Linked DNA regions of Homo sapiens. The protein of the gene in region 1 interacts with the protein of each later gene in a pairwise test. Each region holds a gene or a part of one and is shown in the gene's direction. Other genes may lie near its edges.

Region 1 (5,397 bases):
GCAAGACTCCGTCTCAAAAAAAAAAAAAAAAAAAAAAGGAAAAAAGAAAGGTGAATGTTGAAATTCTGCTCCTAGATATATATTCGTGAGAATTGAAAACATGTCCTCACAAAAACCTGCACATGAATGTTCATAGCAGCAATATTCCCAAGAGCCAAAAGGTGGAAACAACCCAAATGCCCATCAATGGATGAATGGATCAACAAAGTGTGGCCTACGTATGCAATGGAAGATTACTCAGCTATAAAAAGAAATGAAGTGCTGACACATGCTGCAACATGGAGGGACCTTGAAAATATGCTGGGTGAAAGCAGCGAGTCACAAAAGAAAACATGTTGTGTGACTCCATTTTTATGAAGTGTTCAGGGTAGACACAAAGTAGATTCATGGTGGCTTAAGACCAAAGGATAGAGGGGACAATGAGGAGTGACTGTTAATGGGCACAGGGTGATGAAAATGTTCTAAAATTAGATTATGGTCATGGTTGTGTAAACTCCTTGAATATATAAAAAATTACTGACTTGTATATTTTATGATGGTTATGCTAATTTTATTGTCTGTGAATTATGCCTCAATGAAGCTGTTTATTTTCTTTAATGTTGATTGTTAAATATTTTACATTTTCCCCTACATTCTACCAGCATTTCTGACCCCCTGGGCATGCAGAGACTTGGCACCCATGATCCTTCAGCCCTCAGGACAGCTGGTAGGGGCAAAGCACTGTACAGACAGGCTCAGAGAAGCGATGTGCCCAGGGCTGTGCTGAGTGACTGATGCCCTGCCGGTTTTCCCCTCTTCCAGGGACAGGGAGGTCAACCAGCTGAAGCAGTGGGTCACCACAATGATGATGTCCATCACCAAGGAGGAGGACACAGCAGCTGAGCTGGAGCTCAAAGCCCGAGTCTTCCACTTCGGCGAGTACAAGGGCGATCAGCAGGTAGGCTGGGGATCAAGGTGGCCAGAGGCCCAGGGTAAGGAGGGACCCTTGGGCACCCACTGGAGGAGCCCTGACAGCCCTTGGGAAGATGGAGGACAAGGCCCGGGTGAGTGCCCTGCAGCTGCCCTTGCCCTGCCTCCCTCCAGGAGCCACCACATGTATTGATGCCTGTGCCAGCCAGCTTGGTTGCCCCCACGCCTCATCCATTGCTTCATTCTTTTATTCAACAAATGTGTCTGCTTCTTAAACACATATATTGTGTCTGGCAAGGTGATCCTGAAGGGGGGGAAGAGGCGTGTCCTCAAGCCAGGCTGAGAGGGTGAGAGAATTGGGAGAGAAGAGAAAGCCAGTGGTGTTCTGAGCAGCAGAAGCCAGGACCCAGACAAAGGCTCAGCCCGCTCCCAACCTGACAGCCTGGGGCCACCCCGGGCATGGGATGGCTTCCTACTGTCAAGTGCCTGCTGTGTGCCAGGCACAGGGCCAAGGGTGTGGGATGCAGCCATGAGCAAGACAGCGCTCCCGATACAGCCAGAATCCATGGGCACTGGCTGTGCCCAGGCTGGGCTGAGCTGCCTGCCTGCTGCTCCTCTCTCCTCATATAGCCCACATGGAGGGGCTGTTATCTGTTTTCTAAGTGTCAGAACAGTCTCAGAGAAGACATAGCCCTGTGGGGTGCCCAGGGTGCAGGGTTCCCTGGAGGAGGGGACTGGGCCCCGTTGGCTCACCAGAGGCAGCTGGGAGAGGGGCTGGAACCAGGGATCTGGCTGACTCCAGGGGGCCCGGGGGATAGGCTGCTCTGGCCAAGAAAAGCCAGTTCCCCAAGTTCTGTTTTAGCCCATGTTCTCAGAGCTCCCACTGTGTGCCAAGCGGTGGCCCCCACCCTGGGAGGTCAGCAGGCCACCGCTGAAGGCACTGGCATGGGGGTGGGTTTCCGCCTGCCAGCACCCTGCTGGAAGCCACCTCCTCCACAGGATAAGCTGCTAGAGAGCCTGAACTGCAAGGTGCTGGATGTGTACCGGCACTGCACCGGCACCCAGCAGGAGGCCAACCTGGGCACCGTGCAGATGCTGACCATCATTGAGCACCAGCTGGATGAGCTGCTAGAGAACCTGGAGCACGTGCCCCAGGTCAAGATCGAGCAGGCCGAGAGGGCAAAGGAGAAGGAGCGGCGCATCAGGTGAGCTCTAGGCTCTCCCTGCCAGCTGCTGTGTCCTGGCTGGCCCTGAGGGCAGAGGGCACATACAGGCCCCACCCTCAAAGCACTCCCAGGAGACAGGCCCCTCCTGCTCTGTGCTATGAGAGACAAAAGCCCATGTCTTGGGGGGATCTAGAGGGGCATCACAGTCAAGTGGGGGGTGGTTAGGGAAAGCTTCCTAGAGCAAACGACAGTGACTCGATGTGGCCAGGAGGCTCAGGGAGGGACAGGGTCTAGAAGATAGAAGAGCTGGAGCTTAGTTAGAGTGTGGCTAGCACGGTCAGCCTCAAATACATGGAACAGCAGTGGAGGGCTTTAAGCAGTGGGGCAAACACGGCCAGGTAGGGTGTGGTTAGATTCTTCCCTCTGGGGCTGGACTGGAGGGGCTGGAGGCTGAGGGCAAGGGCAGCTGCCAGCACCCAGGAGAGAAGGCATGGCTACAGCAGTGTTGCTGGAGCGGAAGACAAAGTGCAGAGGCTCAGAGAGCCTTGGGAGTTTCAGCTCAGAGGGGAGTGGAGGGGGGCAGATGGGCAGCAGCTTGCTATCTGTCGGGACACCAGCCTGAACCCAAGGTAGATGGGGGTTGTGGCTTCCCTGGCCTGTGGGCAGCCCGGTTCATCCACCCCGTGCAGGGCTCTGAGACAGCGCAATCTGCAAACATCCATCCGTCCCCCCAAGCACAGGGGCTTCTCCTCTGGGTCCCTGGTACCCTGCTCAGAGTGGGCACTAGACCAGGCTTTGATGACTGAGAGTATATATAGGAAGGAGACAGGACTCTCGCCCCAGGGGGATGCTGGCCTTCATGGTGGCAAGGGAGGCCACAGGTGCACAGATCAGGCCATGGGTGTAGATTCAGAGAAATGTGCCTCTGGGAGGGGTCTGCTGGATGAACCTTAGATTCAGCCCTTGCAGGAGGCCAGAGCCAGGGCCTCGGAGCAGCAGGGCCCTGGTTGTCCTCCTCTGGGCCTAGGCCACCTTGGCCAAAAGCAGCGGTGCTTTGGCTGTGGATAGGTATTGAGAACTTGACCTGGCAAAAGAGGTGAAGAGGAGCTGGGAGTTTTCTTGAGGGAGGACACGGCCTGGCCTGGGGACTCCGTGTGGAGATTACACAACACCTTCCAGGTCCCCCCAGTTTTCAATGTCATTTCTTGCCACCCAGACTTCGAGAAGAGAAGCTCCAGATGCAAAAGATCCTACAGGAGGAGCATCTGCAGCGGGCCCGGGCGCGCGCCCAGGCTGAGATCAAGAAGAAGGTAGGCAGGGTCGCCTTGGGGGGTCTCTGCTGGAGGGGGTCCCAAGACAGCATGGCAGCTGAGGTCCTGCAGCCCAAGCCCCTGATGCTACCACTCTGAAGGCATTCAATGAGGCTCTGAGGGAGACAGGCTGCCTTCGGAGCAAGGCCTCTCCCAGGACCTGCTTCCTGCAGGGGGCTCTTCCCCAGGCTGCCAGCCCATGGCCCATGCCAGGCTGAGCCTGGTTCAGCCATGCCCACCCACCCCAGCCAGGTACACTCTGCTCAGGAGCAGGGTCCCACCACCCTACCCACACTCCGGCCAGACCCCAAGCCCTGCTCACTGCCCGTCACTGGGGTCCCCCTACTGCTGTGTCCCAAGGCCCCCACCCTTCCTGCCTTCTGACCCTGGCAACAGGAAGCAGGTCCCTCTGCCCCCACATCTAATAGGTGGTGCTCCAGAGACCAGGCTTGATAAATGCCAGGCAGACTCACACCCCCAGTTATTTCAGAGTTAACTCCAGCCCTCAGCCTGCAGGGCTGACCAGAGTGGCCTGGAGGTGACTGGAGCTGCTGGGCCTCTCCCTGCACCAGGGGCAGGGGTATATGGGCATACGGCTCACTAGGCAGCAAGGCTCACTGGGCTTGTTTCCCCTGCAGAGAGGCAGGACACTGGTATGCCGCTCACGACCCCCAGCCCACAGGATCAAACAACAGTCTGAGCACACACTGATGGACAAGGAGGAGGAGGAGCTGCTATTTTTCTTTACTTAATCTTCGCAGACCATAGCTGTTCTGGCTGAAGGCTTAGCAAAGATGTTGGCAGAGGAAGCAGAGACTGGGCTGGGTCTCGAGTGGCCCAACTGAGTCCTCTCTGTCTCCTGTGTGCTCCCTTCCTCACCTGAATAAATTCATGTCTCTCTGGAGTCTTGAAGGCCTGCTTAAGGATGCAGCCACCATTGCCAAATCTCAGCACCCCGCCGGTTCATCATTTAACCCTAAGCAGATGCTTGAGGGCAAGAGCATGACACCTTGGTTCCCATCTAAAACAGCTGCTCTGCGAGACAAAAGCTAATTCCACGCTGAGTGTAGTGTGAGATCAGCCTCTGTGCAAAGACCAAAGAAATACAAGCAGGCAGCTAGGTATATGGCAGGGCCAGCACTACCAACTAAAGGAGAAACAATGGGCTGAATGCCATATATGTAGCTACTTGAATTAAGCCAAGGTGAAAAACCTTCGGTGCATGACTATAAGAAAACTTTCATTCATTTGCACTAGGAGTTAGGCCCATCACCGGCAGGGAACCTTGGTGCCCAGAACACTGGGTGCCAGTCCCAGTCACTTCACGGTGACGTTCCCAGGGAGGCACATGGGAGAAAAATAGAGGCCGAGAGGGCATTCCTGGGGGAAGACTCTCCTCCCCATGGAGATGGGGTGGGTGCGGCTCCACCCGCCATGGTGGCCAAAAGCCTCCCATGGAGGGAGGAGGACTCCGGGCCACCTTGGGGCTAAAGAGCCTGCCAGGTGGGCAAGTTCTCCCCTCGCCTTTAGTTGGTGACAGAGCGCCGGTCTGTGGAGAAGACCCATTTGTCGACGAGGTGTGGATTCTTCCACGTGGAACAGCACCTGGGGACAGCACCTCAGAGTGAGACAAGACAGAGGGAGGACTCACTCAAACTTGATGTCACCCCCAAATTCAAGAAACAAACACAGGGCAGAGTTTGAATGATTCAGTCTGAGAATCAAAACAGCCTCTGAATGAACACATACTTCAAAAGGCACAAGGCAAAAAAAAAAAAAAAAGTCATTTAGGAGTGACCCTGTGTCATTGCTAAGTTGACAGACTTACAAATAAACATGGGCAAGGTGATCACCTTGTCTCCTTTTACAAGACAGACCTCACTCGGTAAAAATATACACTGACGTATTATGTGCACATCAACCTCAATAATAAAACATACACGCGCCATCACAGTCCTACACATAATTTATGGTATTCAGAACATCACTTTATAAACTGTTGCCAAATTACC
Region 2 (8,249 bases), on another chromosome or scaffold:
AGCCTTAAACTCCTGGGCTCAAGTGATCCTCCTGCCTCAGCCTCCCTAGTAGCTGGGACTATAGGCGTGTGCCCCCATGCTTGGCTAATGTCTTTTTATTTTTTGTAGAGACAGTCTCACTATGTTGCCTAGGGTGGTCTTGAATTCCTGGACTCAAGAGATCCTCCTCCCTGGGCCTCCCAAAGTGCTGGGATTACAGATGTGAGCCACCTCACCCGGCCTCTCCCAACATTTATTAAGTGTTTTATACCAAATGTCTTGTAAGTTCTTATGCAATATGGCTACAATCTACCTTTCCACCTTTATTCTCCTTATTTTTTGTATTGTGCAACCAAATAGAACTACTCTGTAATAACCCTTGCTTTGCCATCTCTCTCTCTGTGTGTGTGTGTGTGTGTATGTGTGTGTGTGTATTTATTTATTTATTTTGAGATGGAGTCTTACTCTGTCACACAGGCTGGAGTGCAGTGGCATGATCTCAGCTCACTGCAACCTCCACCTCCTGGATTTAAGCAATTCTCCTGGCTCAGGCTCCCAAGTAGCTGGGATTACAGGCGCTTGCCATCATGCCCACCTAACTTTTGTATTTTTAGTAGAGTTGGGGTTTCACCATGTTGGTCAGTATGGTCTCGATTTCTTGACCTCGTGATCCACCCGCCTCGGCCTTCCAAAGTGCTGGGATTACAGGCATGAGCCACCGTGCCTGGCCCTGTATACATATGTTTTTAGAGACAGGGATCTTACCTTGTTGCCCAAGCTGGAGGGCAGTGGCATGATCCTGGCTCACTGCCGCCTTGAACTCCTGGGTTCAAGTGATTCTCCCACCTGAGCCTCCTGAGCAGCTGGGACTACAGACGTGCACCACCATGCCCAGCTTTTTTTTTTCGTTTTTAAAACACGGGGTCCTGCTATTGTTTCCCAGGCTGGTCTCAAACTGCTGGTCTCAAACTCCTGAGCTCAAATGATCGTCTCACCTCTGCTTCCAAAAGTGCTGGGATTACAGACATGAGTCACTGTGCCCAGCTTAGTCTGTATTACAGACATGAGCCACCATGCCTGGTGTGTAATTGTTGGTGTGAATGATAGAGTTTGCTTACTTTTTTTTAATGTAGTAATCCAGTTTCATATTGCTAATCTGATTTCATAACTTTAGAATATCAGTGGCCATGAGAGGCTGAGTTTGGTTCTGAAATCAAGAGGAGCATAGATGTAGACCACAGTCTGTTTCCTTGTTATCTAAGAGGCAGGACAGCATAAGTGTTGCCAGTGTATTTTTGTTTTTCTTGTCTTTTCTGTCTCAGCCTCCTGAGTAGCTGGGACTACAGGCACACACCACCACACCCAGCTAAATTTTTGTATTTTTAGTAGAGACGAGGTTTCACCATGTTGGCCAGGATGGTCTCCAATCTCTTGACCTCGTGATCTGCCCACGTCCGCCTCCCAAAGTGCTGGGATTACAGGCATGAACCACCACACCCAGCCAATGGCCTGTATTTTTCTGAGTTTCATCAAGTTTGTGTTTGGTTAAATGCATATTCAGATGTGGATTCATTGCTACCTCTATATTTGAATTTTTTCTTTAATTACTTGAACATGGAATCACTTTATTTTGTGAGCTAAACAACAATAATTCCAATAACTTTTCTTATGAATAACTTTGTTTTTTTCCTCTAAATAAAGCCCCCAAAGATGGCCTCTGAATTAATCAGTTATGGGCCTTATGTATGTGAAGGATCCAAAATTATTGAAAAGTAATTGCTAGCTAGGTGCAGTGGTTTATGCTTGTAATCCCAGCACTTTGGGAGGCCGAGGCCCACGGATCACTTGAGCCTTTGAGTTTGAGACCACTGCATTCCAGCCTGGGCAACAGAGTGAAATTCTGTCTCAAAGAGAAAAAAGAAAAAGTAATTGCTTGATTGCATTTATCATAGCATTTAGTTAGAGGAGAGGAGAGGCAGATGCCAAATGTATGTTATTTTTTGTTGTTCATTTAAGTTTCTTGGTATGTCACTGGTGGCTTTTACTGTGCGTCCTTTTTAAGAGTGGGTTCATGGTGTGTTTAGTCAAATGCAATATAACTTACTCTGGAGTGCACACTGGGTTAGATTAGTATTTTGATTTACTCTGCTGCTATTTAATGAATACATAGAAAGATAAAGAAGAATGCTGTAGCAGTGAGGAGTATTCAGAACTTGGAGGTGTTAGAAAGGAGAACTTTGATATTTTATATTGAGTGCTGATCTCATTTAGAACTACCCACCTTACTGACACTTTGCTTCAAATATTGGTTTTGGGAAAATCCGATTATGATGAAAGTCTGTTTATACTTATTTTGCTGATTTTTTATTTAAATTGAATTGTATCCACTTAAAATATTTGAAAATAAATTGGCTAGCTCTTTGAACTTTGGAGAACAGCAGCCAGTATAATTCAAGGAGTAGCTTGAAGAGACTTTAATATCCCCTACCCGCTAGCTTCGTCAGCTTCCCACTAAGTCACCCTAAGTAAACATGCAATCTGGGTAGGAACTGGGAGCTTGATATCCAAATATTCTGTCTCTCCTTCCAGTCAAATTGCTATCCTTAAAAGTCCTTTCTTTCTTTTTTTTTTTTGAGGCAGGGTCTTGCTCTGTTGCCTAGGCTGGAATGCAGTGGCATGATCTCGGCTCACTGCAACCTCTGCCTCCCGGGTTCAAGCGATTCTTCCGCCTCAGCCTCCTGAGTAGCTGGGACTACAGGCATGCACGGCTAATTTTTGTATTCTTTGGTAGAAACGGGGTTTCACCATGTTGGCCAGGCTGGTCTTGAACTCCTGATCTCAAGTGATCCATCTGCCTTGGCCTCTGAGAGTGCTGAGATTACAGGCATGAGCCACAGCATCCAGCCCAAAAGTCCTTTCTATATAGAAATTCCAGAGACATTCTGGCGTCATGCTTTTAAATTATTTATTGTTTTATTATTTTTATTATTTTATTATTGCAATTAAGAGCAGTTCTCTTTTTTGCAAGTTATCTCTTATCTCCAAGTTAAATCTATGTGGATTAAACTGTGATTGTTTATTGAATTGCTGCTCTCCCTCTTCCGTAGCTGATGACTCTTTGAGTCAGTTCTACCCAATTAATCTAGGCCCTCAACTCTCAGGGTGATCTCTGCTTGTGGAGATTAAAATTGTTTCTAAGCTATGTGGAATAGAGCTTGGGTAAGGTTAAAGAAATTTTGGCAGGGTGGGTAGGAAGGGGCAAGATTATCTGTCTGATGGAATGGATAAGAAATATGACTGTGAGTTTATATTGATTAGATTGGAAGAAGCAATAGATGCTCTATTAAGATTATTTTCTATTACCTAATTCTATATTCAATGTATATCTACAATTCTGTTCTGTTATCTAATATCTATTAATAGAGACAGGAACACCTCCATCTTTTTTTGGAAATAGGTGGAAATAATCAAATAAGATTGGATATAATCTGTACTCTTGTAGTTAATTGTTATTTATAGATGCAACCTGATTCCATCCTCCACAAAAGTCACCCTAATGCAGATCAGCTTTTGGTAGGCCCTCTATATGTTTGAATCATAGCACCGGACACAACATAGACTGAGGTTTTGGTACTTTCTACATTAATATTCACTCAGAAAACTTTTGCCCATGCATTATATTTGTTATATCTGCATTAAATCATAAAAAAGTTATGATAGAAAAGTTTCAAGTGAGAAACTCCCCGTGATTTAACTATATTAGAGCACAGGATTATTTTATTTTTATTTATTTATTTATTTATTTTTTGAGACAGGGTCTTACTCCTGTCACCCAGGCTGGAGTGCAGTGGTGCGATCATGGCTCATTACAGCCTCAACTTCCCAGGCTCAGGTGATCTTCCCACCTCAGCCTCCTGAGTAGCTGGAGCTACAGGCTCCACACCTGGCTGATTTTTTATATTTTTAGAGACTGGGTTTTGCCATCTTGACCAGGCTGGTCTTGAACTCCTAGGCTCAAGAAATCTGCCTGCCTTGGCCTCCCAAAGTGCTGGGATTACAGGTGTGAGCCATGGCGCCCAGCCTATTTTAATTTTTAAAAATTTATATGGGGAGTCTCTCTATGTTGCTGAGGTTGGTGTTGAACCCCTGGGCTCAAGTGATCCTCCTGTCTCAGCCACCTAAATAGCTGGGACTACAGGTGTGTGCCATCACATCTAGCTAATAGAGTTGTTTTGAATTGGTTAAATTTAAGCCTGTAACCCATACGTGTAATAGAAATGTATATTTTTGGTGATTTATGAATACATAGTATTAGGCCAAGGTTTAGTTGTGATTGATATACAGCTATTAGTACTTACATATACTCTTAAGTAATCCTATTAAAATCATTTTAACACAATGGGATCTTAATGGCATATCTTTAAACCTATCTTATAAAGAAATGCTGCTTTAACTTAGATGCCAAGCACATATTTTAATTTACCAATTAGAAGTTCTATATGTATTCAAGTGAAGAGTGTTTCACCTTAATAATACATTTCATACAGATTGTTGAAATTCATCCCATTCCCCCTTCCCTCCCCAGTTTTTGGCCATATGGACACAGGCAGGACTCTCAGGAGTGCCAAGGATTTAAGCCCTCAAATTTTACCTGCCTACCATTTCAGCATGCGATAGGGACACATGGAAGGCAGCTTAAAGTAAAGGCTTTAAAAAATTTTTTTTGCTACCACCCACTTGCTGTTTCTTGCCCTTTTCTCTTTTTTTTAATGATTCAGAGGATCGACACTGTTGCCAGCTTACTACCTGCAGTCTTTCCAGTCTTGATGGTATTACGTAATTATATAAACCTTTTGCATGGTATCATATGATATTGTATATTTGTCTTCCTACACATGTGTCTTTAGAGTAATTTCTTTCCATCTGGTGTTGAAAATGAGCTCTTTGTGAGGTTATTTTTAAATCTTCAAGCTTTCTGGCATCCTCAACACTTGAAATAACACAATTGCTTTTGGAGGCAAGAAAATCCACATAGTATACTTTGTGGTTTTTCCAGTGAAAATGTAAATAGTATTTTATTTATGAAATTTTATATATATATATATATATATATACACTTTTTTTTTGTTTTTTTTTTTTGAGACGGAGTCTCTCTCTGTCACCCAGGCTGGAGTGCAATGGCATGATCTTGGCTCACTGCAACCTCTGCCTCCCAGGTTGAAGCGATTCTCCTGCCTCAGCCTCCCAAGTAGCTGGCATTACAGGCACGTGCCACCACGCCTGGCTAATTTTTGTATTTTTAGTAGACACGGGGTTTCACCGTGTTGGTTAGACTGGTTTCGAACTCCTGACCTCCTGGTCCGCCCGCCTTGGCCTCCCAAAGTGCTCAGATCACAGGCATGAACCACCGCACCTGGCCTATAAAATTATATTTTATATTTAGATAGTCTTGAGATAATTGTGTTAGGTTGGAAATAGTTGTTGCCAAGTAAATAAAGTAAAGGAGAGCTACTTAAGGGAAAGGAGACCAAGAATAAGAAGCCTGGTAGAGGAAAGAGGTTTTAAAGATATCTTCTTCTCTGAAGATTTATTGTTATCTTTTTATCCTCTGTCTCATTCTGTTGCCCAGGCTGGAGTGCAGTGGGGCAATCATGGCTTACTCTAACCTTGAACTCCCGGGCACAAGCAGTCCTCCCACCTGAGCCTCCTGAGTAGCTGGGACTACAGGTGCATGCCACCGTGCCCCGCCAGTTTTAAAATTTTTTCTTAGAGACAGGATTTTTTTTTTTTTTTTTTCGAGATTGAGTCTCACTCTGTTGCTCAGGCTGTAGTGCAGTGGCGCGATCTCGGCTCACTGCAACCTCTGCCTCCCGGGTTCAAGCAATTCTTCTGCCTCAGCCTCCCAAGTACCTGGGACTATAGGTGTGTGCTACCATGCCCGGCTAATTTTTGTATTTTTTAGTAGAGTCGGGGTTTCACCATATTGGCCAGGCTGGTCTCAAACTCCTGACCTCATGATCCGCCTGCCTCGGCCTCCCAAAGTGCTGGAATTACAGGTGTGAGCCATTGTGCCCAGGCTGAGATGATCTTATGATATTGCCCAGCCTGGTCTCAAGAGATCCTCCTGACTTGGCCTCCCAAAGTGTTGGGATTATAGGTGTGAGCCAACACACTCAGCCGTGATGCACTGTTTGATTCTGATAATCAGGTATGTGTAATTAGCCTTAAACCTTTTTCTTCCTTCTTTCCTTTCTTTTCTTTTCTTTTTTTTTTTTTTTTTTTGAGATGGAGTCTCACTCTGTCACCCAGGCTGGAGTGCAGTGATGGGATCTCAGCTCCCGGATTCAAGCGATTCTCCTGCCTCAGCCTCCCAAGTAGCTGGGATTACAGGCGTGTGCCACCACACCTGGCTAATTTTTGTATTTTAGTAGAGACAGGGTTTCACTATGTTGGTCAGGCTGGTCTCGAACTCCTGACCTCAGGTAATCTACCCGCCTCGGCCTCCCAAAGTGCTGGGATTAGAGGTGTGAGCCACTGCGCTTGGCAACCTTTTTATTTCTTAACGGTAGATTGATATATCCTCTAGCTTACTAAGTAACCTTTGAATTTTTATTATTTCTTTAATTGTAATATAAAAAGCTGATCTTTTATTAAGTGCCATTCCGTCTCCTAAAGATGATGCCTATAATGATTAAATAGTAAAGGTCAGTGTCATCTACTTAGCAAGATTTACCCAGTAAGTCTTTTTTTCTCCAGATGCTATTTTTGTTGACTTATCCTTGCTAGTTGTATTATCTCTAATATGACCATTAATGGACACTGGTTAACAAGATATGTTCAATATTTAATGTATTCTCTTTGGTATTTTGTAAGATGGAAAAGACTAGCATTGGGATGAATAATTGCATAATGATCATAGAATCATATTTAAATAAATATACCAAAGAATATATAACTAAAGGGCAAGTTTTTTTGTTTTATGTTTTTAAATTTTTATCATGCGTACTGTGGTAGGCAGCCTTTATTATGGCCCCCAATTATCCCTCCCTCCTGGTATGCATACCCTTAGTGTAATTTCCTCCCCTTGAGTGGGGGCTATTGAATAGAATACAGCAAAAGTGATGGGATGTCACTTCTAAGATTAGGTTATAAAATACTGTGGCTTCTCTCTTGGGATTCTGGCTTTCTCCCTCTCCCTGGGACCACTAGCTACCATATCCTGAGAACACTCAGGCAGTCTGTAGTGATGTCCATGTGGTTAAAAACGAGGTCTGTCAGTAAACTTGGATGCAGATCTTCGGTGTGAGTGATCTTGGAAGCAGATTCTCCAGGCAGAGTTGAGCCTAGAGGTGAATGCAAATGCAGTAGACAGCTTTACTACAACTTCATGAAAGCCCCTGGCCGGGTGCGTGGCTCATGCCTGTAATCCCAACACTTTGGGAGGCCAAGGTGGGTGGATCACCTGAGGTCAGGAACTCGAGACCTGCCTTGCCAACATGGCGAAACCCCGTCTCTACTAAAAATAGAAGAATTACCTGGGTGTGGTGGTGTGCACCTGTAGTCCCAGCTACTTGGGAGGTTGAGGCAGGATAATCGCTTGATCCTGAGAGGTGGCGGTTGTAGTGAGCTGAGATCGTGCCACTGCACTCCAGCTCTGGGTGACAGAGCGAGACTACATCTCAAAAAAAAAATAAAAAAGACCCCAAGCCAGAGTCACCTAGCTAAGTCATGCCTGGATTCTTCATCCACAGAAACTGTGCAATAATAAATGTTTGCTGTTTTAAGCCACCATGTTTTGGAGGGTAATTTATTGTAAAGTAATAGATAACTAAAACATCTACCACTTATTCATGTAATAAATACTTATTGATTGTTCACTATTTACAAGGCACTATCATAAGTACATTGGGACATAGCAGTGAATAAAATAGAGGTATCTGTTCTTGTGCAGCTTATTTCTTTTTCTGGGACAGGGTCTTGCACTGTCACCCAGGCTGGAGTGCAGTGGTGTGGTCACAGCTCACTGCAGCCTCAACCTCCTGGGCTCAAGCAGTCCTCCCACCTCAGCCTCCTGAGGAGCTGAGACTACAGGCACACACCACTATGCCTGGCTAACTTTTTTTTTTTTTTTTTTTGAGATGGAGTCTCGCTCTGTCACCCAGGCTGGAGTGCAGTAGCGCGATCTCGGCTCACTGCAACCTCCGTCTCCCAGGTTCAAGCTTTTCCCCCGCCTCAGCCTCCTGAGTAGCTGGGACTACAAGCACCCACCA
Region 3 (8,299 bases), on another chromosome or scaffold:
AAAGAAAAGAAAATTAAAATTAAATTAATTAATTAATTAAAAATAAAAGAATTAGAAAACAAGCTTCACCTCCTCCAGGAAGTGTGCCTTCATCTCCCTATCTCCAGAGAGGTTAGGTGCCCTCCTGGGAGCTCCCAGCCCTCTGCGTTTACTCCAAGCTGATGGCGCTGGGTTGTCATAGGTGTGCCTAGCAACGTCACGAAGGTGTAACTCTAAGCAGGAAGAAAATAAACTTCCTCGTGGCAGATTTTACATGCACCTGGAGGCTTGAGGATGGGAAAATGAAACCATCCCTGTAAACCTCATGCAATTAATCAGAGAACAGAGAGGAGAAATGGAAACAAGCCAGGCTTGCAGCACACCCAGCGCTGATCATGAGGTCAGCTGCCCCCTGATCTGCTTCCTCTTAGTTGTCTGGTGCCTGCTGTTCTAGAATCACGTAGACCTGGTTACAAGATCATAGTTCCCCTTAACTGCACTAGAGATAGCAACTTGAACGTTATGAAACATTAAATGTTACTTTTGAGAAATTCCTTCAGGTCCTGCGTGCCGGTGAAGCGACTGACTCCGCCAGCCTGAAGGACCCCACCAGGAGCTAACTCCCCAAAAATGTCTTTTTCACATCATGATGATTTCATTTCCCTTGCTCTGACCAATGACCCCAATTTTCTAGCCTCTCACCCTCCATAATCCCCTTAAAAGCCCCATCCCAGAATTCCCTGGGGAGATGCATTCGCAGGTCTCCTCCTATCCCCTTGCACAGTGCCCTGTGATCATGAAACTCTCTCTACTGCATCCCTGCTGTCCAGTGTAATAGGGCTGTGACAGGGCAGCAGGCATACAAATCTGCTGTTCCTGTAACAAAAAGCACACCTCTACGTCTAGATGGAGCCACGTCTAGAGCCCTGCAGATCCATGCTAGAGGGGTTCCAGCAGGCTGGAGTACAATGGCGTGATCTCGGCTCACTGCAACCTCTGCCTCCTGGGTTCAAGAGATTCTTCCGCCTCAGCCTCCCGAGTATCTTGAATTACAGGTGCATGCCTCCACGCCCAGCTAATTTTTGTATTTTTAGTAAAGACGGAGTTTCACCATGTTGGCCAAGCTGGTCTTGAACTCCTGACCTGGTGATCCACCCGCCTCGGCCTCCCAAAGTGCTGGGATTACAGGCGTGAACTACCGCGCCTGGCCCTTTTTTTTGTTTTGTTTTGTTTTTTGAGATGGAGTCTCGCTCTGTCGCCCAGGCTGGAGTGCAGTGGCGCGATCTGGGCTCACTGCAAGCTCCGCCTTCCGGGTTCATGCCATTCTCCAGCCTCAGCCTCCCCAGCAGCTGGGACTACAGGTGCCCGCCACCACACCCGGCTAATTTTTGTATTTTTAGTAGAGACGGGGTTTCACCATGTTGGCCAGGCTGGTCTCCAACTCCTGACCTCAGGTGACCCACCCAACCTCGTCGGCCTCCCAAAGTGCTGGGATTACAGGCGTGAGCCACCATGCCCTTCCTCCTTCTCTCATAGGCTTCTTTCTTCCAGCACCTGTAAGATCAAGGCCAGGGAGACCTCCTTCCCTGGCTCCATCTGGGACAATCACAGTGTTTCTGTGGTCCCCTGTGAGGCTACAATTCGCCTCTCAGTTCCTGCATTGCAGAGCAGGTGGAAGCTGAGCAAGCAACACTGATCTTAGCAGAGCCTCATGTATTCAACTAGACATTTACTGAGCTCAGACTGAGTGCCAGGCATTGAGGATACAATATGGCAGGCAAGATTCCTGCCCCGAGAATAATGATAATTAAAATAGCAAGCATTTATTGCACACTGATTATCTTCTAGGCACTGCGCTAAGCATTTTTTTTTTTTTTTGAGACCGGGTCTCACTCTGTCGTCCAGGCTGGAGTGCAGTGGCGCGATCTTAGCTCACCGCAACCTCTGCCTCCTGGGTTCAAGCGATTCTACTGCCTCAGCCTGCTGAGTAGCTGGGATTACAGGCACACACCACCACGCCTAGGTAATTTTTGTATTTTTAGTAGAGACGGGGTTTCACCATTTTAGCTAGGCTGGTCTCGAACTCCTGATCTCGTGATCCACCCACCTCGGCCTCCCAAAGTGCTGGGATTACAGGTGTGAGCTACCGTGCCCGGCCCCAACCTTCTTTTCTTTTTCTTTTTCGAGTGCAGTGGCACGATCATAGCTCACCGCAGCCTCAAACTCCTGACCTCAAGTGATCCTTCCACCTCAGCCTTTCAAAACAGTGGGATTGCAGGTGTGCCTCACCTTATCCAGCCTAGGTGCCATTAATCCCACTGTATAGACGAGTAAACAAACATGCAGACTAAGCTTGTCTAAGAGCACACAGCTAACTAGGGGGCAGAACCAAGCTTTAGACCTGAGAAGCCCTGTTCCAGAGCCTACTCCTTTAACCATTAACTAAACTAAACCAACGGTTGCATGCCAGTGGGGACAAATAATGGTAAAGCAAACAAATAAAAAAGATACTGGCCAGGTGGCTCACGCCTGTAATCCCAGCACTTTGGGAGGCCGAGGCGGGCAGATCACCTGAGGTCAGGAGTTCGAGACCAGCCTGGCCAACGTGGTGAAACCCCGTCTCTACTAAAAATATAAAAATTAGCCGGGCGTGGTGGCACAAGCCTGTAATCCCAGCTACTCAGGAGGCTGAGGCAGGAGAATCACTTGAACCCAGGAGGCGGAGGTTGCAGTGAGCCGAGATCATACCACTGCACTCCAGCCTGGTGACAGAGTGAGACTCTGTCTCAAAACAAAAACAAACAAACCAACAAAAAAAGGATGGAGTCTTGCTCTATTGCCCAAGCTGGCCTTGAACTCCCAGCTTCAAGCAATCCTCCCAGCTTACCCTCCCAGAGCCCTGGAATTACAGGCATGAGCTACCGCACTAGGCCAATCTTTGCTTAATTTAAGATTATTTTCCTCTTTCTCTGATCACCTGGTCTGTTATTATTGGCCCAATCCTGTTTTCATTCAAGTATCCTGTCTTCACTTTCATTTCCTGGGTGTTAAGGAACTCATACATCATCCAAATCTGGGAAAACAAAGGCTAAATTCAATTCCGGCTCAGGCAAGGGAGAAACACAAGCAGAAGTTCAGCTTTTTGTGTTTTTGTTTTTGTTTTCAGACACAGTCTCATTCTGTTGCTGAGGCTGGAGTGCAGTGGCTCGATCTCAGCTCACCACAACCTCTCCCTCCCAGGTTCAAGCGATTCTCCTGCCTCAGCCTCCTGAGTAGCTGGGATTACAGGCACTTGCCACCACACCAGGCTAATTTTTGTATTTTTAGTAGAGATGGGATTTCGCCATGTTGGCCAGGCTGGTCTTGAACTCCTGACCTCAGGTGATCCACCCACTTTGTGGATCTCCCAAAGTGCTGGGACTACAGGCATAAGCCACCACGCTCGGCCTCATTGTGTCTTCTGCCTCAGTACATCCATATTTTGAAATACATATTATTTTATTATAATTTGTTTTTGAGACAGGGTCTCCCTCTGTCACCGGGCACTGTAGCATGTGTCTTTCAAACATTATCTCATTTGATCCTCTCCCCAACTCTAGGAAGAAGATACAATTATTATCATCCTTATTTTACAGAATTGGAAACCAAGGCACAGAGAGGTGAAGGGACTCGCCCAAGGTCACACGGAAAGTGGTGGGTCAGGGGATTGAACTGAGGGCAACTGGCTCCAGACCCTGAACTCTCCAACCCTCTGCCACCCTCCTCCTAGGTGAGGGAGATTACATTACTGGGGACCCTGTTTCAGGATATTAAGGGGTTTTCCAAGATGTTTCTCATAGAAAAAAGAAAAAAAAGGGTGTGGCTCATGCCTGTAATCCCAGCACTTTGGGAGGCCGAGGCAGGCAGATGACTTGAGGTCAGGAGTTCAAGATCAGCCTGTCCAACATGGTGAAACCCCATCTCTACTAAAAATACAAAAATTAGCCAGGCATGGTGGCAGATGTCTATAATCCCAGCTATTCGGGAGGCTGAGCCAGGAGAATTGCTTGAACCTGGGAGGAGGAGGTTGCAGGTTGCAGTGAGCCAAGATCACACCACTGCACTCCAGCCGGGCGACAGAGACTCCATTTCAAAAAAAAAAAAGAAGACAAGCAAGATGTTGAGTGTGACTGGGTGGAAGCCACTGACTTGTCCCTGGCACAAGTGTGCTGATATCCCTTCCCCCTCCTTCCTCACGTCCTGCATCTCAGCGAGAATTGGGGTGCCGGGGTTAGCTGTGTGGCCGTCATCCCAGGCCCAGGTGAAGCCCTCGATCAGGTGAGGCCATGATCCCAACGAGTGTTTTAGCCCAGATCCTGCCTCTTCCCTGCTTTCTGCCGAGAAGCGGGACCTCCTCTATGGAAAATATCCAGCTGGGTGAGCCTGGGAGGGAGGAGGTGAGTTGGGCTGGACTCAGGGACCGACTCTTCCCGTCTCATGACTGTGTTTACTGGGCTGGATTTTGGGAAGGGGCCAGATTGCATCAGACAGGGCCTGATGGGCTGGAGCCAGACTGTGGTCTGAGGAGGAGACACAGCCTTATAAGCTGAGGGAGTGGAGAGGCCCGGGGCCAGGAAAGCAGAGACAGACAAAGCGTTAGGAGAAGAAGAGAGGCAGGGAAGACAAGCCAGGCACGATGGCCACCTTCCCACCAGCAACCAGCGCCCCCCAGCAGCCCCCAGGCCCGGAGGACGAGGACTCCAGCCTGGATGAATCTGACCTCTATAGCCTGGCCCATTCCTACCTCGGTAAGGCCCACTCAGCCATCTCCACGGTCCTTCCTCCTCTCCCGAAATCAGGACCCACCCCTCTTGTTTCCTCTCATTTCCTTTCCTTTCCTCTTCGTTTCTTTCTTTCTTTTTTTTTGAGAGAGTCACTCTGTCACCCAGGCTGGAGTGCAGTAGTGTGATCACAACAACTCAAACAACTCACCGCAGCCTCGAACTCCTGGGCTCAAGTGATCCTCCTGCTTCAGCCTCCTGAGTGGCTGGAACTTCAGGTGTACACCACCTGCAGTGGTGAGATGGGGTCTCACTATGTTTCCCAGGCTGATCCCAAATTCCTGGGCTCAAGCAATTCTCCTGCCTTGGCCTCCCAAAGTGCTGAGATTACAGGAGTGAGCCACCCTGCCCAGCCCACTCACCCTTTTCTAGCCAACCTGTTCCTTGGACCCTCACGTCACCCCTGTCTAATCCCTTATCCCAGGAGTGCTATGTTACTCAGCCTGGGACCTCACACACATCTGGGGTCCCACATTCCACAGAGGGGAAGCAGCAGGCTTCTCCCTGCTCTTCCCATCCCCACAACCCTGAACCCCTGCCTCTCCTCTGACAGGGCCTCTCATCATGCCTATGCCCACTTCACCTCTGACTCCTGCCTTGGTTACAGGAGGTGGAGGCCGGAAAGGTCGCACCAAGAGAGAAGCTGCTGCCAACACCAACCGCCCCAGCCCTGGCGGGCACGAGAGGAAACTGGTGACCAAGCTGCAGAATTCAGAGAGGAAGAAGCGAGGGGCACGGCGCTGAGACAGAGCTGGAGGTAAGGAGTCGGGGGGCCCAGAGAGCTCAAGGTGGTGCTTCTGCCATGAAGGACAGGCCGGAAGGTGTGTGATTGGGTGGGGAGGAGGGATCAGGCAACTGTTGTCTTGATGCAGAATAAAACGAGACATATGTTTGATTGTGAGTTTCCTAGTGGCCAGAGCAAAGTGGGAACACAGAACCTTTCCAATTGAAGGGAAATTTGACTTACAGAGACAGAAATTGAGGATAGAGAGGGTGGGTCCTTCCCTGGAGTCACAAATCAAGTGAGTGGGAGAGGCAGAATTAGAACCCAGATCTCTGTCCCTTTTACCACCTGCTTTTCCTCACCCCCCAGATGAGGCCAGACCATGGACACTACACCCAGCAATAGAGACGGGACTGCGGAGGAAGGAGGACCCAGGACAGGATCCAGGCCGGCTTGCCACACCCCCCACCCCTAGGACTTATTCCCGCTGACTGAGTCTCTGAGGGGCTACCAGGAAAGCGCCTCCAACCCTAGCAAAAGTGCAAGATGGGGAGTGAGAGGCTGGGAATGGAGGGGCAGAGCCAGGAAGATCCCCCAGAAAAGAAAGCTACAGAAGAAACTGGGGCTCCTCCAGGGTGGCAGCAACAATAAATAGACACGCACGGCAGCCACAGCTTGGGTGTGTGTTCATCCTTGTTCTTTGTGTGTTTTTGTTCGGGCATGTGTGTGCTTGCCTGTGCCTGCACATTCATGAGCCTGAGAGAGCATCTTTGATGTGTATTTGTGTTTGGTGTATGTATCTGGGGCAGGGAGTGTTCCTGCTCTTGCAGGGTCTACGCTGTGAATGCAGCTTTTGGTTTGTTTGCTTTTGCTTGCATATATTTTAGTGCATACATTTCTGTGGGCTCCTACGTAGTGGAAAGGAATTTCTTCTGCTTTTTTGCGATACTGCCCATGAAACACGGCCCTCCCCAGCACCTGTTTTTGTTGATTGTGTCCTGTTCATAGACGGGAACGCTACTTATGAGTGCCATCTAAAAGTCAGAGAAAACTGAGATTTAAAATATTAAAAGCCAGGGCCGGGGGCAGTGGCTCACGCCTGTAATCCCAGCACTTTGGGAGGCCGAGGTGGGTGGATCACAAAGTCAGGAGTTCAAGACCAGCCTGACCAACATGGTGAAACCCCATCTCCACTAAAAATACCAAAAATTAGCCAAGCATGGTGGCAGGTGCCTGTAATCCCAGCTGCTCAGGAGGCTGAGGCAGTAGAATCGCTTGAACCCAGGAGGTAGAGGTTGCAGTGAGCCGACATCGTGCCATTGCACTCCAGCCTGGGTGACAGAGGGAGACTCTGTCTCAAAACAAACAAACAAACAAAAACTAAAGTCTGGGAGCAGTGGCTCATGCCTGTAATCACAGCAGTTTAGGAGGCCGAAGTGGGAGGATTACTTGAGCCTAGGAGTTTGAGACCAGCCTGAGCATCATAGTAAGACCCCATCTCTACAATTTTTTTTTTGAGACAGAGTCTCACTCTGTTGCTCAGGTTAGAGTGCAGTGGCACCATCTTGGCTCACTGCAACCTCTGCCTCCCGGGTTCAAGCAATTCTCGTGCCTACGCCCCCTGAGTAGCTGGGATTACAGGTGAGCACCACCACGCCTGGCTAATTTTTGTTTTTTTGTTTTTTTGATACAGAGTCTCACTCTGTTGCTCAGGCTGGAGTGCAGTGGCATGATCGCAGCTCACTGCAACCTCCGCCTCCTGGGTTCAAGCTATTCTCCTGCTTCAGCCTCCTGAGTAGCTGGGACTACAGGCACCTGCCACCATGCCTGGCTAATTTTTGTATTTTTAGTAGAAACAGAGTTTCACCATGTTGGCCAGGATGGTCTCAATCTCTTGACCTCATGATCCACCCACCTTGGCCTCCCAAAGTGCTGGGATTACAGGCGTCAGCCACCACGCCTGGCCAATTTTTGTATTTTTAGTAGAGATGGGGTTTCATCATGTTGGCCAGGCTGGTCTCAAACTCCTGGCCTCAAATGATCTGCCCACCTCAGCCTTCCAGCCTTTGGGAGGCCAAGGAGGGAGGATCGCTTGAGGCCAGGAGTTCGAGACCAGCCTAGGCAACATACCAAGGCCCTGTCTCTACAAAAATTTAAAAATTAGCAAAGCATGGTGGCTCATGCCTGTAGTCCTAGTTGCTCAGAGGCTGAAGTTGGAGGATCCCTTGAACCCAGTTGGAGGCTACAGTAAGCCATGATGGTGCCACTGCACTGCAGCCTGAGCAATAGAGTGAAACCATGTATTGAAAAAGAAAGAAAGAAAGAAAGAGAAAAAGAAGGAAGGAAGGAAAAGAAAGGAAGGAAGAAAGAAAAGAAAGAGAGAAAGGAGAGAAAAAGAAGAAAGAGAGAGAAAGAGAAGAAAGAAAGAAAGAAAGAAAGAAAGAAAGAAAGAAAGAAAGAAAGAAAGGAAGGAAGGAAAGAAAGAAAGAAAGAAGGAAAGAAAGAAAGAAAGAAAGAAAGAAAGAAAGAAAGAAAAGAGCGAGCCCCGGCACAGTGGCTCACACCTGTAATCCCAGCACTTTGGGAGGCCAAGGCAGGCGGATCACCTGAGGTCAGTAGTTCGAGTTCGAGGCAGAAGTTGTGGTGAGCCAAGATCACGCCATTGCACTCCAGCCTGGGCAACAAGAGCAAAACTCCATCTCAAAAAAAGAAAAAGAGAGAGAAAGAAAGAGAGAAGGAGGGAAAGAAAGAGGAAGGAAAGGAGGGAGGGAAGGAG

The links.
Region 2: the proteins of CFAP100 (region 1) and EPB41 interact in binary tests that used the Homo sapiens proteins (3 or more experiments, as listed by UniProt).
Region 3: the proteins of CFAP100 (region 1) and NUPR1 interact in binary tests that used the Homo sapiens proteins (3 or more experiments, as listed by UniProt).

What each region holds. Positions count from the first base shown.
Region 1 is NC_000003.12:126,432,268-126,437,664, forward strand, and holds the end of CFAP100 (cilia- and flagella-associated protein 100), read left to right. Parts: intron 1-528; exon of another isoform or gene 529-801; coding exon 802-937; coding exon of another isoform or gene 938-1,476; exon of another isoform or gene 1,477-1,908; coding exon 1,909-2,114; intron 2,115-3,291; coding exon 3,292-3,385; intron 3,386-4,023; coding exon 4,024-4,137; 3' UTR 4,138-4,289; downstream 4,290-5,397. Other genes in the region: uncharacterized protein LOC124906280, read right to left, coding at 931-1,476. UniProt on the Homo sapiens protein: May play a role in ciliary/flagellar motility by regulating the assembly and the activity of axonemal inner dynein arm.
Region 2 is NC_000001.11:28,916,870-28,925,118, forward strand, and holds part of EPB41 (protein 4.1), read left to right. Parts: intron 1-8,249. UniProt on the Homo sapiens protein: Protein 4.1 is a major structural element of the erythrocyte membrane skeleton. It plays a key role in regulating membrane physical properties of mechanical stability and deformability by stabilizing spectrin-actin interaction. Recruits DLG1 to membranes.
Region 3 is NC_000016.10:28,535,263-28,543,561, reverse strand, and holds the start of NUPR1 (nuclear protein 1), read left to right. Parts: upstream 1-4,587; 5' UTR 4,588-4,654; coding exon 4,655-4,766; intron 4,767-5,352; coding exon of another isoform or gene 5,353-5,406; coding exon 5,407-5,543; 3' UTR 5,544-5,556; intron 5,557-5,892; 3' UTR 5,893-8,299. UniProt on the Homo sapiens protein: Transcription regulator that converts stress signals into a program of gene expression that empowers cells with resistance to the stress induced by a change in their microenvironment.